Linked DNA regions of Homo sapiens. The protein of the gene in region 1 purifies or fractionates together with the protein of each later gene. This does not show direct contact. Each region holds a gene or a part of one and is shown on either strand. Other genes may lie near its edges.

What was found.
Region 2: the proteins of CPNE4 (region 1) and RGPD5 purify together in Homo sapiens (affinity purification with mass spectrometry, with the first as the bait; 2 studies listed by BioGRID). This does not show direct contact.

The regions. Positions count from the first base shown.
Region 1 is NC_000003.12:131,552,435-131,556,098, forward strand, and holds part of CPNE4 (copine-4), read right to left. Parts: intron 3,118-3,664; coding exon 3,063-3,117; intron 58-3,062; coding exon 6-57; intron 1-5.
Region 2 is NC_000002.12:109,855,671-109,858,285, reverse strand, and holds the end of RGPD5 (RANBP2-like and GRIP domain-containing protein 5/6), read right to left. Parts: exon of another isoform or gene 2,597-2,615; intron 2,425-2,596; coding exon 2,390-2,424; 3' UTR 581-2,389; downstream 1-580.

The DNA.
Region 1 (3,664 bases):
TTTACCTGCACATTCTGGGTTGTCTTCATTAAAGTTGATTGCAAAGTCATGAGAGACCTAGACACCGATTAAAATTTAAAAAACAGGAAGAAAGAAGAATTACAACTTTAATCCAGTAAGAAGGCACTGGGGTTTAGAGTTTGCAAACAAATGCCCATTATATTCATTATGTGTTAAGCAGCAGGAACCATTTCAAGCCTTTACACAATCAATATGAGATGGAGGGTGAATTCTAAGCTCCCTGTGGAGTTGAGGTGACAGGAATATTTTCTAGAATCAGATAAATGCTGTCAGGAGGGGAGAATAAGGCTTATAAAAAAATCCAAGAAAAGATTTCAGAAAGATAACTTTGAATAGCTGCTAGTTAGAACTGGCCACAGACTGGAGGCTTAGATTTGGCTGAGCTCTATTTGGACCCAGTGATTAAAACAAAAATAAAAACAAAAAAACTCAATAACCCAAGCTGTCTGCTGAAGATAGCGATGGTTATAAAAGCTTCAGCTAAGCAGTTGACACTTAAGAATCATTAACATGATATGCAGAACTACAGGGCAGGAGGATTTTCACATACCTACAGGTAAAACAGACTGCACTCTACTTTTGGAAACATAGTAAAGTAATATACTTTGTAATATTTCAACACAAATTCCTCTACCTGGCAGAACCTATGCACAAGGTCAAATAACATATTGTTTACTTTTTTCTTTCCGAAAACCTGATAAAACAAGATAGATGTTCTGGCATCTGGACATTTTTATTGAATCATTTGGTATTTTATGGAGAATTTCATTTCAAAGGATATTTCCAAGCTCTGACTCTTTTGGGTATCCATAAATTAGGTCACTGTGTTAAAAGACACCTGTTTTCTTAGTGGGAGGTGATCGGTGATGCTCTCAGTGCTTATCCTAGTCCCTTGCTCTTAGCACTTCCAGGTAAGCCAGCTGACTTCAGTCATCTTATTTGCTTTGTTTACCTTAAGTTTTTTCTTGGCCTCCAGGGCCTGCCTTGCTTGCCCAAGTGACAGGCTAAAAGTGACCCTTGGGAGTAATCAGTAATTAACAGGAGGTGATGTATACATATCCCAGCTCCCTTATCCCTTGGGGTCCATGTGTGCTGTATATTGTCTCCTAGGGTTCTTCAGCAGAGTTAAGCACCAGTTGCCAACAGCGGTAACTGACTTGATAATATACTCTGTGCTGACTTCCACTTCCCAACCTCTATTGTGGTTTCCCTCACCTTTTAAATAAACTATTTGCATCCAAACCCTTGTCTCAAGATCTGTTTCTGAGAAAGTGCTAACTAAGAAAGAGAGGTGCTTGTGTTTCAGTTTCAATGCATACTTTCAGATTTTGTCCTAAGAAGTAAATTGTGGCAACCTTGTAAACTCTCCTGGGGGCACCTGAGCTGCTCAAATCATCAGTGCTTGTCTGAGGAATGGGAGAAATTAGGGGACCCGAAATGGGGAAATGTGAGAGATGCCTATTGAAACAAGAATAACCAGGGGATTTTGCTGACAGGAAGGATGGAGTTAGGGGATCAAGTGAACAAGAGGACTTCAGAAAACAGCAAGAAAGATTAGTTACTCCAGGAAGGGAACCAAAAAGATGTCATTAGTGAGAAAAAGGTATGGTGCATAGCTCTGTCCTCAGCCCTGTTGGGCCAACCTGAGGCTGGAAGACCACCTGGTGGGGATGTGGTGAAAACTCAAGAATCCCTGGGTAGTTGGGCTGATGGCTATTGAGCTATTCAGCAGCTCTATGAAGAAAGTGGGCATTCACCTGTTTACATTCCCGATTTGAAGGGGCCTATATCTCCTCAGCTCCAGCTTATTCTTGTATCGGTCATCTTTTAATCTTAGTGTTGCCAGGCCTTTCAGGTTTTCAAGAGAAACCAGAAATCTGACATTTTATATATGCAATTGCTGAATTCGTTTTTTAAAAGTGTGTCAAATATAACATATTTGTGGCCTGAATAATGTCTATAGGCCACCAGTTGATAACTCTTGTTCTATATTCTTTCTCTCCACAAGCTGTATTTCTAATAAATGCTTCTAGAATTATGTAGCTATGCCCAGCAGAAAGGCCAGTGTGGAATACAAGGCAAGAAAGAAGGAGAACAGGTCAGGGAGACAAGCGATTCCATCCACTATTCACTCTAGGAGCAACAGGGATATTGATTTCCTCTTTCAAAAAGGATACCTAAGGGGAAAGCCCTTTATATGATGGCTCTAGTGAGGGAGCAAATGTCAGCATCTACCTCCTCACCTGTGGCTCAGACACAGCCAGTAAAAGAGAAATTGAGGATTGGGCAGTGTTGTTTGTACTTAGCTCAGACCTCAGAGGCACTGGTAAGGTGGAGGCTGGGAGAGGTACCCTGCTGTCTCTCCAAGGCCCTGTCCACCTAGTGGGCACGAGTTCTCTGTGGAGAATGTTCTACAGGAGCATCTAGAATATCACAGTAGTGTCTCAGCCTCATTACAGTGCAAATTTATCTACACACAATCTTTGCCTTTTTTCTGTCATGAGAAATCATTATCAAAACCAAATAGGATTCCAACGTCTTCAGAAGAACATTTCAGCTTCCCAATTCTCTAAGTCATAATAGTTCTTTCTTCAAAACTTCTCTGTGTCTCCCATACAAGACTTGGACTCGGAGACTTGGGATAAGAAAGTCTGTAGACTCCATTGTCACGGACTTTCCCAGTTGGCATTGCCAATAGAATTCTATTTCCTAGGGGATATACGAGTGAATAGGTTCTGAGCCCCTGGAGATCAACTTCTTGAGTGTTTTCTCAGACTCTGACCACATTTATAAGAAACTAAACAATGAAACTCTTCATCTGGACCTCTGAGAAGACCCATCCAAAATACCAGGAGATAGGGTTTCATCAAGAGACGGGCCCTGGCGAGTTAATCTCACTGATTCTGAAGACAATTTCTGACTCTGTAGGCCCTACTGACACAGTTAGGTCAGAGTCAGGAGTGTGAGACTGCTGCAAAGAAGAGCCAAGTTATCCTTTGACCACAGTGAAGTGGAAGAAGATCACATCTCCACTCACTCACCGTGTACTCTGGAGGTATCCTGGCGCCAAACCCAAAGGCAGGGAACATTTTGTCACTGAAACCAAAATGAAGAAAAGAAAAAACAAGAAGTTGCTTCATTTATTCATTTAATGAGAAAGAAAAACATTAACCTACATTACTAGGTTGCTAGGCCATGTTGCTATGCCAGTGCTGACTCATGCTTCTTGATTGTCTGTGGTGATGGGGGTAGCAATAGCATGGATAATTAAAATCAAGAAACAGCCCCTTAAGTTCATTACAGTCATTAGTCTACAACTTCCTCCCTTAATTTTTTTGCTAGATTCTATACTAAGAAATAAAATGGCCCTACCCTTTCATCAATGGCCTCCACTTCAACTTTCAACTTTGTTTCCTTTGAAAAGTGACCATGAACTAGGTAACTGTAATGGTTGACTGTGTTAGAACCTTTTGTATGTATCATCTTTTAAAATACAAGGAGAGATAGTTATTCCCCTTCTGCAGGTGGGGAAATGCCTTGAGAGGTAAAGTGACTTGCCCAAGATCATGCCACTAATTAGAGCTAGAGTTCAAATACAGATAAGACTGAATCGAAATGGATATTAAAAAGCAATGGGGCCAGG
Region 2 (2,615 bases), on another chromosome or scaffold:
TCCCCATCTCCTAGTCCAAACATCCAAAGAAATAAATTACCTCCAGGAGATCGAGACCATCCAGGCTAACACGGTGAAACCCTGTCTCTAGTAAAAATACAAAAAATTAGCCGGGCATGGTGGCCGGCGCCTGTAGTCCCAGCTACTTAGGAGGCTGAGGCAGGAGAATGGCGTGAACCTGGGAGGCAGAGCTTGCAGTGAGCCGAGATCGCGCCATTGCACTCACGCCTGGGCGACAGAGCAAGACTCTGTCTCAAAAAAAAAAAAAAAAATTAATGACCTCTGCCCCTAACTGAACAAAGCCCTTCATCTAAGGCCACCCTTTGGTTGGCAGCCTTAGCCAGACATCTGCTTCTGGTCAAATCAATGTCTTGTCCACAGGGAGGCCCAGCGCTGTTTCTGGTTTTAGCTGGATGCAGGGTGTCAGACATGGCAGGTACTACGGTCTACCTGGCGGGTATCAAAGAGTTGGTCGACGTTCTCACAACAACCTAATAGGGACCAACCATGGAAGGCCAGTAGTAAAGGAGTTTGAAGTTCCCTTTCAGAAACCAATTAACAACCCCAAAGAGACAGTGGGTAACATAAAAGAGCAGCCATAAAAATATACAGTTTTAATAGAAATATTAAAATAATCATTACACTTCCTCTCATTGCAGAAACCATGAAAGAATATGCCTTTTGTAATCAAAGTAATTTTTTATCATGCAAAAAAGTATTTTGTTATGACATTCGTAAGTGGAGACTGTATTTCAAAACAAGTTTATACAGACTTCAAAAGGTCTAAAGTCAAAGTGAAATATATTTAAATATGATTAGTTACATCTAATGCAGCTGGCATACTCATATTCACAGTTTATAAAGTAAAAAAACTAAACTCTTCATGTCGGCTCTGAAATAGATGCATTTTCATTCATACATTCGCTAGTTAGGTCTGTTCTTCTAAGGAGGAAAGACGAGATATATGAGATATTTTTTAAAGAACAAACTCAACATATCAGCAGCAAATTTCAGTTAAACTAAATTGGAAACCAATGTTCTGTGTAACCAAAGTGCAAAGTCAGTTCCCCAGCTCAGAAAGAAAATTAAGAGTATAAACTGAAGGCTTAAGAGAACTTCAGAGAGCACACTGTGTGATTAATACATAAATATTAAAAATTATCCAATTTTTGATTTAAGAACAACACAGTTTGGATCTAGTCATTAAAACATATGCACAGGTGTCAAAGGCAAGTAACACTACCACCTAAGGTTATTCGGAGGAACTGTGAAGATGTAGCACGGACCTCTAAGGTGTCTAAAATCCCTTCTGATGGAAAGGTTATGGAACACTATCTGCCAAAAACACTGAAAGCACCACTTTTATATTTAGATCCAATGCTGAGTGATATAGTCACTGTTGGGATAGGTTTTTATTTGGGAAAATGGAGAGGATTCTCAAAACAGATTCATGGCTTGCATGCAGTGACACCCTATCAAGAGCCTGGAAAGACACCATGAAATCACCTCAACTCAAGTGGTGGGCCCACCTACTCATAGTCAGTGTTACACTAGCCAGCTCTAGGGCTCTGACAACATAATGAGTTTTGAGGTAGTATACTTTAAAGAAAAAAAGAAGAGTTTATTTTAAAGCAAATAACTAAACTGTATTTTAACTTAGCACAATTAACTGCAGCATATTTACTTCATAGCCCCTTAACATGTCACTTTTACCAACAAAGCTTTTTCCTTCATATTCTAATCACAAAAATTTCTCAACAATTTATAACAATCTGTAAATCTGACCTTGCAATAAATAGTCATAAAACGTTATTTTTATTACTATTATTATTTTTAGAGACAAGGTCTCGCTCTGTTCCCCGAGCTGGAGTGCAGTGGTACAATCACAGCTCACTAGCCTCAAGCGATTCTCCAGCCTCAGCCTCCCAAAGTAGTGGGATTTCAGGCATGAATCACCACACCTGGCCTTGAAACATTATTTTTAAAGCCTAAATTCCAGTTGGTATGGTACCAAAATTTAGTTTAACTTCAAAATTCACAGTACTGCCGAGAAATGGGCGGGTCCTGAGGTTCCAGAGAAGTGGGGAGTGAATTCATTCCTGGTGGTTTTATTCTGGCAGCATGCATGGGAGATCACATGAGTTAGAGGGCTGTGGCCTGGTATCAACACTTCAAGCTGTTGTACTTTTACTTCAAGTTGAAACTTTTAAAATACATCTGTCATACAGATGTACAAATATATGTAAATGCAAACATATATACACACTTTTTGACAAAAGAATAATGGTAACACACACGAACCATTTTTGTAAACAGATTCTATTTGGTTAATAGAAGTATTCCTTCCATCAACCTATCGAAGTCCAAACCAACTACGAAGATAGGATGCTCATCCAGAAGAACGGGAAGCATTTTCTTCCTCATCTTTAGAAAGTAAAACAAAGAAAAAAAAAAGAAAAAAGAGAGTATTAAAATTTCTCAATGTAAAATCTATATTTTAGAACCACTCTACAATATAAGCAAATAATGTCTTTTTTACTGATCACATGCCTTTTTTGGTGGGGGGGGGGGGTTCTTTTTTTTTTTTTTTTTTTGAGATAGGGTCTTGCTCTGTC